Linked DNA regions of Homo sapiens: region 2 is linked to region 1. Evidence: fine-mapped expression QTL. A gene starts in region 1. The other region holds a variant in brackets. All regions are shown on one strand. Distances are from middle to middle.

Region 1 (5,356 bases):
GCCAAAGCCTGTGCAGCCTCAGGCTGGACTCAGAGAAGCCTCCCCAGCTCCCGCAGCTATGCTGCGGCCTGAGGCTGTGCTGGACCTGGCTTCATTTCTGCTCCAGGATGGCAGGCTGTGTCTTCTTCATGGCTGCATGACCAGCCTGGGGTGGGTGTGCCCGGGGAAAGTAGGTGTACACTGGGAGCCGTGCCATGTTTCAGGCCCTGTCCTGGCTCTGCCTCGGGTGCGGGACCTTGGTCCTCCACACTGGCTGGGTGGGGCTGGATGGGTTGAGATTCACATGTGCTCCTTACGACCACGGGTCCCTGGGTGCCCGCAGCAGGGCCTCCACCCTTCGCTGTGTGCATATTCGTGTGCTTATGAGTTTGGCTTTGTTTGATTAAAGGTTTCTGCTGCTAGAAAGATAACTTGAAAGCCATGGGCCATAGGATCCTCTCTGTAGTCCCCACCCACACAACTGTGGCTGAGGCCTCAGCTCTTAGGACAGACCGTGGTGGACATGTGGCCAAGCCCTGGCCACCTCCCCTTTCCCTGGAAAATCCAGATCTAGAGCAATGGCCTCTTCACACAAACCTTCTCTCAGTGGTTCAGACCACATTAGGATTAGAGAAGGGCCCCACGAGGCACCGCCAGGCGTGTCTGTGAGCGACTCCCAGGATGGAAGGCAAAGGCTGACCCCCCTCTCTGTTGTGCCCGCCCCCCCACCCCCGCCAGGTGTTACTTACAAAGAGGTGCTCAGCTTCAAGCCTCCCCGGCAGCTGGGGGCCAGGGTCTCCAAGGAGACGCCTCTGTGAAGATCTCTGGGCTCCGGGGTGGCAGTGAGGACCACCTTCACCTTCCACCTGAGAGGGGACTCTCGTTGCCACCTTGACCTTGGCTGGGGCTTGCATCCCAAGGCATCCATCAGAGCAGACGCCCGGGTTCCATGGACCCTCCTCCCCACGGCCATGCCTCTGCTCTTGGGCGCCCATCATGGAGGAGCACCTGAACTTTCTGGACAAGACCTCTGGCCGACCTGGGGATGGCCTCTGATCCCTGGAGCAGTGGCCCACTTGCCCGGTGCTCTCAGAAACCTCAGAGCTGGTGGGGCTCCAGATCAGGCCTTGGCCTCTGAGCCCTGCCTGCTCTGGGCCATGCAGAGGAAGGACAGAGGGTGGGCGCAGGGCACCAACTCAGGGACATCCCCTCTCCTGGGCGACGTCAGTGGACCTTCCTGCACCCCCAGCCTGGAATGTAAATCAGCTGTGTGGTGCCCGCGTGGCTGGAAGGAAATAGACCCTTTTGTAGCTCCCTGTTCTGGCTGTGCGTCCTCATGCCGGGTCCCACCTTAAGACCTCCGGGCCCTTGGCCTGCATGTAGAGGAGGCTGGCCTGATAGCTCAGACCCTTAGAGCCAGGAGGGGGGCCTGAGCATCCCATCTCTCCCAGGCCACAAAGCTGGTGCCCACTTCCCCCAGGCCTGTGCCAGTGATCTTCGAACCCCCACGTTAGGGCTTGGCCCCTCCCCTTTTACGGGGTGACCTGCTAATGGCTTAGACTCTAAGCCACTGTGTGTGGATCCTGAAGCCAGACCCAGGGGCAGGGCCTGATGGGGAGGAGTGTTAGGATCTACCCTAGCTCTCTGCATCCTCCAATGCCAGCAGGTCCCTGGGGGGAGGGGGCACGCTGGGCACGTTGAGACCCCTGTGGTGAAGTGGTGAGCGCCAGCCAGTCCCTGGGGGGACGGGGCACATTGGACATGTTGAGACCCCTCTGGCCCCTGTGGTGGATTGGTGAGCGCAGAGGGCTGGGTTTTATTCTTGATCAAACCTCTAGCCCCTACTACCCTGCTCCAGTGGTATCTTCGTGCCCAGGCCGCCCTCTGCAGGCCACTCGGTGTTTCCAAGGGTGGCGGCTGGAACACAGGCCATGGGCACCTCCAAACCTGTCCCAGGGCAGGGGTTACAGCAGAGAGACCAGTGAGGGGCAGGGCAGGGCAGGCCAGGTGTCCTCGGTGGACATGCCCACAGCTGGCCCAGCCAAAGTGGACCTGATGAGCTGCCACGACAGATGGGCCTTCTCTGCCCAGCGACCCTCATGCCTCTCCAGGGCATCCGGGCCTGGGGGACGTGATCGCCATCAGTTCCGGAGCCACGCTGACTTGTGGCATGGCTGCTGTCCACACTGGGCCCAAAGTGTGGGCCCATAGGTGGCCTGAGGACTGGGGGCCCCAAAATTCTGTGACCCAGCTGGATGTGAACTCCCGCGGGGGCAGGGTGTCCCCTGGGCTCCAGGGGGCCTCAGGTTTCCTCTCGGGCATCTTCCTCCGTGGCTGTGCCCGTGCCTCCTATCTTCCTCAGTCCCCCACCATGCTACCGCAACCCCGGTCCAGTGTCCCCACCTCCACCGACCTTGACTCTGCTCTTGGGCCAGGGGTCTTCTTGGAGCTAGAACCGGACTCACTCCCTCCTTAAACCTCGGGGGCGGTGCTGCGCCTCCATGCAGCCACGACCACCGCCCTGAGCCGGCCGCAGCGCCACCTGCCTCCCCGCGGGCTCCTCCCGCCTCGTGGCCTTTGCCCTGCAGACCCCTCGCCCCCCTCGCCTTTCACCCCAGGTCTTCCTGCGCCCGGGCCGGGTGGGCCTTGGGGCTGCGCTGGACCCTGACCCAGCTGGTGCAGAACGGGGCTCTCATGGGCAGGCTCGGCCACGGGCGTTCGGGTGGGGCTGCGGCGACCACTCGCCTAAGGCCGGGGGACCCCGCCCCTCTTGGAGGGGATCGGGGCGGGGCCAATGGGGAGGCGGAGCCGCAGCGCAGCTCCGAGGGCTGGCGGCTCGGGGCGCCGAGGCTTCCGCGCCCGCTGGTTCCTCGCTCCGGGGCGGAGCTCGCGATAGCGACCGGGAGCAGGGCGCGGGGCGGGACCCAGGTCCGAGGCGAGGAAGCCGGAAGCCAGGCGCGGGGAGCCTCCCCCTTCGACTGCAGCCTCGCTCCGTGCCTTCTGCGCGCCTGGGATCCCGGAGCCTGCCTAGGTTCTGTGCGCTCCCGCCCAGGCCGGTGCCCGCCGCCCGCCTGCGCCCCAGGCAGGTCCCAGGCCTCCGGCTGCTCCCGGCCGAAGGTGGGGACAGGCAGTGGCAGGCACCACTAGCGAGGGCGTTTGGGAACCCAGGGTGACCACGGCGCAGCCATGGGGACCGCGCTTGTGTACCATGAGGACATGACGGCCACCCGGCTGCTCTGGGACGAGTAAGTGGGACCTGGCCGAGGTGGGGTGCGGGGAGGGACCTCTGAACTGAGCTCCTCATCTGCCCCAGCCCCGAGTGCGAGATCGAGCGTCCTGAGCGCCTGACCGCAGCCCTGGATCGCCTGCGGCAGCGCGGCCTGGAACAGAGGTGTCTGCGGTTGTCAGCCCGCGAGGCCTCGGAAGAGGAGCTGGGCCTGGTGCACAGGTCAGGACGGGGGCAGGCCCCACGATGGGGGGCGGGGCGGGCAGCCCAGCTAGAAACCTAAGAACCTGGGCCTACCCCGAGCCTGCCAGCCTCGAATACAGAGCCTCTCCCTATGCACCTCGGGTGGGCTCACAGGCTTGAGGAAGTGACAGGGTGGCCACTCCCACCATGAATCCCAGGTCCCCGCCTCCCGCCCCCCTGCTCCTGCTGGTGACCCTGCCTCTCCTGCCTGCCCATCTGCATGCAGCCCAGAGTATGTATCCCTGGTCAGGGAGACCCAGGTCCTAGGCAAGGAGGAGCTGCAGGCGCTGTCCGGACAGTTCGACGCCATCTACTTCCACCCGGTGCGTGTCCCCGGACACACTCACCTGTGCAGACACACATGCACGTGCCTTTGAGCGTTCACAGCCACGGCCGCCAACCCCAGCCAGTGTCCCCTGGTCCATACACATGACATTGCCCTGCACACCTGCCTGCTGGCACTGCCAGAGCCTGGGGCTGGCCTGTTCTGCTCAGCAGCTGGTGTCTTGCAGCCTGGCACAAGTGTGGGTATGGCCTGCAAAGGGCAGCAGGGAAGGCAGGGGGCTCATCTGCGCCCCTGCGCCCACAGAGTACCTTTCACTGCGCGCGGCTGGCCGCAGGGGCTGGACTGCAGCTGGTGGACGCTGTGCTCACTGGAGCTGTGCAAAATGGGCTTGCCCTGGTGAGGTGAGAGCTGCCCCTTCCCCTGGCTGCTCCTCCGTGGGTGGCCCTGTGAGGGGCCAGGGCGACCCTGACGTGACCCAAATCCTACTCTCACGCCGTAGGCCTCCCGGGCACCATGGCCAGAGGGCGGCTGCCAACGGGTTCTGTGTGTTCAACAACGTGGCCATAGCAGCTGCACATGCCAAGCAGAAACACGGGCTACACAGGTGTGTGCCAGGCTGGCTGCAGGGGGGTGGGCCCAGGCCACACAGCAAGGGGCAGCGCAGGAGGCGAGAGAACCCAGCCAGCACCTTCCCATCCCTGGCCGGGCTCCTGGAGGTGGGAGGCCCTGCCCCTTTGCCACCAGCGCTGTCTGTACCCAGGATCCTCGTCGTGGACTGGGATGTGCACCATGGCCAGGGGATCCAGTATCTCTTTGAGGATGACCCCAGGTGAGCAGGGGTGCGGAAACCACCCTTCCCTGCAGCCCCAGTTTTTGGGTGCACAGCCTGGCCTGGGAAAATCCAGGGGTGAGATACAGACATGTGCTCAGGGGTCAGCGTTCTACAGGGAGCTGTAGAGCTGTTGAGGGTCCTGACCTTTGACCTCTGGCCCTGGCTGGCTGTTGGCAGCGTCCTTTACTTCTCCTGGCACCGCTATGAGCATGGGCGCTTCTGGCCTTTCCTGCGAGAGTCAGATGCAGACGCAGTGGGGCGGGGACAGGGCCTCGGCTTCACTGTCAACCTGCCCTGGAACCAGGTGCCCACCCTCAAGCCCCAGGTCCCCACCCAGCCCCCTCCCCCTGGGCCCCTCCCCTCCCCCACAGTTCACCCTCAAGCCCCAGGTCCCCACCCACCCCCTCCCCCGGGCCCCTCCCCTGCCCCACAGTTCAGGATGTAGCCTGGGATGTCCTGCCAGGTTGGGATGGGAAACGCTGACTACGTGGCTGCCTTCCTGCACCTGCTGCTCCCACTGGCCTTTGAGGTGACTGCACGGAGGGCTCCCCCAGGGCAGCCGGGTGGGAGGGGGACCTTGTGCCTGGAGTGCGCCAGTGAAGGCAGGAGGAGGGTTATGAGCTGTCCCACTCCTGTGTGGCTGGGGAAGGTGCTCAGGAGGGGATGGGATGGGCCTGGCTCGCCCTCACCTGGGCTCCAGCCCCTCTCTGTCGACCCTCCCCACTCCGGCCTGGCCTGTAGTTTGACCCTGAGCTGGTGCTGGTCTCGGCAGGATTTGACTCAGCCATCG
Region 2 (5,356 bases), 23 kb after region 1:
TAGCTGGGATTATAGGCGTGCACTACCTCGCCCAGCTAATTTTTGTTTTTATTAGAGATGGGTTTTCACCATGTTGGTGAGGCTGGTCTCAAACCCCTGACCTCAAGTGATCCGCTTGCTTCGGCCTCCCAAAGTGCTGGGATTACAGATGTGAGCCACTGCGTCCAGCCTGTTTTTCTTTTCTTTCTTTTTTTTTTTTTTTGGAGACAGGATCACCCAGGCTGGAGTGCAATGGCTCAAACATGACTCACTGCAGCCTCAACTTCCTAGGCTCAAATTGATCCTCCTGCCTCAGCCTCCCGAGTAGCTGGGACCAACAGGCATGCACCACCACGGCTGGCTAATTTTTAATTTTTTTTTTTTTTTGAGACGGAGTCTTGCTCTGTCTCCCAGGCTGGAGTGCAAAGGCGTGATCTCAGCTCACTGCAACCTCTGCCTCCCGTATTCAACAATTCTCCTGCCTCAGCCTCCTGCGTAGCTGGGACTACAGGTGCACGCCACCATGCCTGGCTAATTTTTGTATTTTTAGTAGAGACGGGGCTTTGCCATGTTGGCCAGGCTTGTCATGAACTCCTGACCTGAAGTGATCCACCTGCCTTGGCCTCCTGAAGTGCTGGGATTACAGGCGTGAGCCACCATGCCTGGCCTAACTTTTAAAATTTTTTTAGAGATGGGGGTCTTGCTATGTTGCCCAGGCTGGTCTCAGACTTCTGGGCTCAAGTGATCCTCCTGCCTCAGCCTCCCAAAGTTCTGGGATTATAGGTGTGAGCCACTGTGCTTGGCCTAACAGCTCTTTTTAAAATATCTCTTTAGGGTATACACGGTGCTGTTGTGGTTTGGTATCTTGTTCCTTTGTATTGCGGGATATTTTTTTTCCTTTCTAACGTGGGTATTTGCGGCTGTAACCTCCCTTCTGGCTTCTGCTACACCCCATTCGTTTTGGTTGTCATGAGCCCTCTATTGGGGGTCTCCACTCTCTGGTTATAAACATACTGTGGAGAATGTCCTGTGGCGAGTCTTTGTGCATCTTCCATCATTTCTCTAATTCATCCCGAAGAGTCAAATGAGCGGGTCTCACGGCCGTCATGTTTTATAGCTTCTGCCCCAGGAGGCTGTCTGTGTACTTGTGTCCTGTGGAAGGTGTTCTGTTTTTTTCTACCCTTTTCTACACTTGGCATTTTAAACATGTATTTTTCAGTGTGGTCAGTGAGGATTTGTGCCTCGGTTTGGTCCCTCGGTGTGGGAGTTCTGGGTATGCCTTCTGGGCATTTGCTTTTGGGTCCTGGAGGCACTCTAGGTGGCGTGGGGTTGGGTGCAAGGGTGGAGGGAGACGGCACCTTACTGGGGGTCTGGGTGCCTGGCCTCTGTGACCAGTGTCCTCTGCCCCTGTGCAGCCGGCCCAGGCCTTTGTGGTGAAGCGGGGCGTCCACGTGTCAGGAGCGTCTCCCGAGAGCATCAGCAGCCTGCTCTCGGAAGTGGCCGAGTATGGGACCTGCTACACGCGCCTGAGTCATTTCTCTCTGCAGCCCGTCCTGGACTCTTTGTACAGCAAGGGCCTCGTGTTCCAGGTATGGCCTTTGCCTCATGGTTGTCACACACCTTTGTGAGAACGGTGCACACGACCTGGAAGAGAGAATCTCAGAGGTCCTTCTGCAGGACCAGAGAGTCTAAACCTTTTCTTTCCTTGCTAACATCTGAAACCCGATAGTGGCTCTTGAGGGATGGGTCAGTGAGGATGTTTTACCTCACTAGAAACTTGGGGCAGATGTGTGTGGGCCCTGGGCTGTGTGGGCCCTGGGGTGTGTAGGAGGCAGGTGCAGCCAGCATAAGGGGTGCGCAGGGCAGGAAAGGCGTGAGTGGGGCTCTTGCTGCCTGCTCCCCAGTGGGCCCGGCACATTGTGGATGACTGACAGCGCAGGGCCCTCCTGTTGGGTGAATTTACATTGCTGGGAGTTCTGAGCCAAGTCTGGCTCCGGAAGCTGCTGTTTGGTGAGTCTTGAAGCTGGCTCATGTGCTGGGAAGAGGCCCATGGGACAGGGGCTGCACCTTGAGTGGGAGAGAATAGGCAGGTGGATGATGGGGCATTTGGGTTTGGGGGATTGAGAGGAGGGTGTTGGGGAAGGTGGGCAGAGAGCCCTGGAGGAGCCAGGCAGCGCAGCCTCCTTTGACTGTTGCTGCTGCAGCAGGGGCTGTCGGGTGGGGTGATGTGGTGAGGTGTAGGTTTTAGATGGGCTGTGGAGGTGGGCATGGTGGGAGCTGCACGGGGCGGGGAGAGCTTCTAGGCAGAGGCTCAGCCCCGGGGGACTTGAGAGCTAGAGATGGTGGAGAAGGGGTCAGAGCAGGGGACGCTGAGAAGGGCTGGACTGTGGTTCTTGTTCATCTGGCAGGCATAGCCAGGCGGCTCCTGGGGTGGGTGGACTGAGATTGGTCCAGGGTGCCCCTGTCTTAGTGTGACCTGCAGGGCCTGCTGCTGTGGCGTTGCCCAGGATGCTGGTGCCACTGAGACAGCTGTGGTCGGAGCAGCTGCAGCCCTCACAGCACTAGTGTCTGTGCACAGAGCACGGCCGCCATTTCCCCCCCAGCCCCTTTGCCATGCCCCTGGGGCAGCTGGGCTCAGATGAGAGGAAGGGTTGGTGGTGGGCGCCCCTGGGGCAGCTGGGCTCAGATGAGAGGAAGGGTTGGTGGTGGGCGCCCCTGGGGCAGCTGGGCTCAGATGAGAGGAAGGGTTGGTGGTGGGCCACAGCTTCTGGCTTCTTGTGGATGGGCCGCATTTCCACCTGGCCCGGTGGCGGGGTGTGGCTCACAGAGGCCCATTGCTTGGAAATGGAGCCCAGAGCTGAGGCAAGAAACAAAGCGCTGTTCCCAGCACTGGTGCCCCTCAGGCCCTGGGCAC[G/A]GCTGCGTCCATGTGCCTGGCCGCCCTCCTCCCAGCCTCTTTGCCCACAGGCCTTCACCAGTGGCCTGAGGAGGTACCTGCAGTATTACCGGGCCTGCGTCCTTTCCACTCCGCCCACCCTGAGCCTCCTCACCATTGGTTTTCTCTTCAAGAAACTTGGCCGGCAGCTCAGGTGAGCCTCAGCATGGCGGCTGAGCAGGGGACTTTGCGGGAGCGGTGTGGGGCTTGCTGGGTGGTGGAGGGTTTGCCCTGCTCCCTGGCAAGGAGGGCCTGTGAGAACAGCCCTCAGCAGGCGACCGGATGGCCCTTGGCCGGCCGAGTTCACCAGGTGCCCGGTGCTGAGCGGGTGTGTCTGCCGTGGGCCCACCACAGCTGGCCCCATCCAGGCCCTCCAGGTCCGGTGGCTCCTGCCTAATTGGCACACAGGGTCCCTGGAGATGTGGCGTCCGGTACACACAAGCTGGTTAGTGAGCAACCAGGCTCGGGGGCTATTGGCAGGTGCCATCAGAGAAGGAAGAGTGAGGAGCTGGGCATTGGGAGCAGTGGGAGAGGCGACCTTCCAGGCTGAGGAGCAGAGTGTGGCAGCGCTGAGGAGACCCAAGGGCTGAGACACTGTGGGGCAGGGGAGCTGGGCTGTGAAGGGTGCGAGTTGTGGCAGATGCTTGGTACCACTGTGTGGATGGGAGGGGCTCTCAGGTGCAGCCCCCAGAAGTGGGAGGATCAGGGTGATTCGTGTGTTGGCCAGATCCTGGGAGGGAGGGCCTGCTGGGTGTGGGTACTTCAGTGGGGTGTGTGTGGACAGCGCAGGGGCACAGGGCTGCACACGAGTCCTGCAGGGAGCCCGTTTCTGGGTGGTTGGGGTGCCTGTGGTTTTTAAAGCCTGCATCTAAAGTTAGTTGCCCCAGGGAGCATAAAGATACGTGGAGACTTTGCTCACGATCTGATCCAGGCCTGGGAACCCTGAGCCCGGTCACCTGGTCTCATCCTGCCTCTGGGTCTAGGTACCTGGCCGAGCTCTGTGGCGTTGGCGCTGTGCTCCCGGGCACCTGTGGAGGAGGCCCCAGGGCCGCGTTTCCCACCGTGAGTTGTGCGTCCCTGCCGAGTGTGTCAGCCTGGTGGGCTCCAGGAAACGGGGGTGGCTGAGCGTGTCCCTGGAGGGCTGCTGCCGGCAGGGCTGCGCCTCACTCCCAGCGCTGGGTGCGCTGAGCTGCCCCCCACCCCCTTTGCGGTCTGCAGGGCGTGAAGCTGCTGTCCTACCTCTACCAGGAGGCTCTGCACAACTGCAGCAACGAGCACTACCCTGTACTGCTGTCCCTGCTGAAGACCAGCTGCGAGCCCTACACCCGGTGGGCAGTGGGCTGGGCAGGCGCGGCGGGCGCGCACTCCCACCAGGCAGACACTTGAGAGCGGTCCCTTGTCAGACACCTGCTGAATGTGGGGGTCACACAGGAAGGGGAGGGCAGGATAGGTGGACTGGGCAGGAGCCCCCAACCCCCCACCCTGCCCCCACTCCACACCCCCCACCCTGCCCCCACTCCATCCCGCCCCTCATGGATGGCCACACCCCACTCCACCTCTCACAGCTACGCCCCCACTTGCCCCTCACTGACAGCCACGCCCCTGTCCCACCCCTCACTGACAGCCACGCCCCACCCACCTCTCCGTTGACCACATCTACCCCTGCTTTTCCCCCACTGCAGGTTCATCCACGACTGGGTGTACAGCGGGGTGTTCAGAGACGCTTATGGCGAGTTCATGATTCAGGTGAACCACGAGTACCTCAGCTTCCGAGGTAGGTGGCAGCTGATTGCGGGGCAGGGGTCCGTGCCTGTGGGCCTGGGTTCAGGGCCATGGCCATGCCGGCCACCGTGGTGTTCACCCTACCTTAGATAAGTTGTACTGGACACATGGCTACGTGCTCATCTCCAAAGAGGTGGAGGACTGTGTTCCCGTGTTTCTGAAGCACATTGCCCACGACATATACGTCTGCGGAAAGACCATTAACCTGCTGAAGCTCTGCTGCCCCCGGGTGAGGAGGGGCTCATGTGTGGGGAAGAGAGGGGCCGGTCTTCCCTGGGGCTGAGTATGAGGCTGGGGCTGAGTGCTGGTGGCTGTGCTTGCATCCCCTTTGGCAGCATTACCTCTGTTGGTCCGACGTCCCTGTCCCCCGGATCTCGGTGATTTTCTCCCTTGAGGAGTTGAAGGAGATTGAGAAGGACTGTGCCGTCTACGTTGGGCGCATGGAGAGGGTGGCCCGCCACAGCTCTGTCAGCAAGGAGGAGAAGGTGCGTGGCACCACAGGTCTCGGGGGCTTTCTTCGCCCCTGCCTCTGCTTCCTGGGGTCTCAGGTTGGTGGGGCGGACATGAGGGCTGTGCAAGATGGGGGCCTCCCTTCTGGCATTTTCTGTCCTGGCGGTGGCCTGGGTGGGTGCCAAGGGGGAGTTGAGATGAAGGGTGGGTGTC

Which allele goes with the higher level. Positions count from the first base shown, and alleles are read on the strand shown. Sizes are in standard deviations (SD) of each study's normalised expression.
For the expression in liver of the gene that starts at base 2,933 in region 1, A is the high allele of the variant in region 2 and G is the other (small effect, 0.38 SD a copy in GTEx).

What was found. PIP is the estimated chance that this variant, and not a neighbour inherited with it, causes the effect. A credible set is the group of variants that fine-mapping cannot tell apart.
Region 2: its variant is the best candidate, but not a certain one, in a credible set for the expression of HDAC10 in liver (GTEx, PIP 0.78).

The regions. Positions count from the first base shown.
Region 1 is chr22:50,248,842-50,254,197 of GRCh38, reverse strand. HDAC10 (histone deacetylase 10) reads left to right here and starts at 2,933. Exons shown (of 20, transcript NM_032019.6): 1 at 2,933-3,224; 2 at 3,293-3,427; 3 at 3,675-3,771; 4 at 4,038-4,135; 5 at 4,234-4,338; 6 at 4,495-4,563; 7 at 4,744-4,870; 8 at 5,030-5,095; 9 at 5,308-5,356. The coding sequence starts at 3,166. MAPK12 (mitogen-activated protein kinase 12) reads left to right here. Exons shown (of 12, transcript NM_002969.6): 12 at 718-1,297. The coding sequence ends at 797. RefSeq lists enhancers at 1,918-2,087, 3,742-4,588 and a silencer at 2,578-3,237.
Region 2 is chr22:50,225,616-50,230,971 of GRCh38, reverse strand. TUBGCP6 (tubulin gamma complex component 6) reads left to right here. Exons shown (of 25, transcript NM_020461.4): 4 at 1,395-1,568; 5 at 2,944-3,065; 6 at 3,895-3,973; 7 at 4,130-4,239; 8 at 4,594-4,685; 9 at 4,783-4,922; 10 at 5,029-5,178. Among named protein-coding and RNA genes, the nearest start is that of TUBGCP6, 17 kb to the left of the region's middle. The variant G/A (reference allele first, on the strand shown) is at 2,894.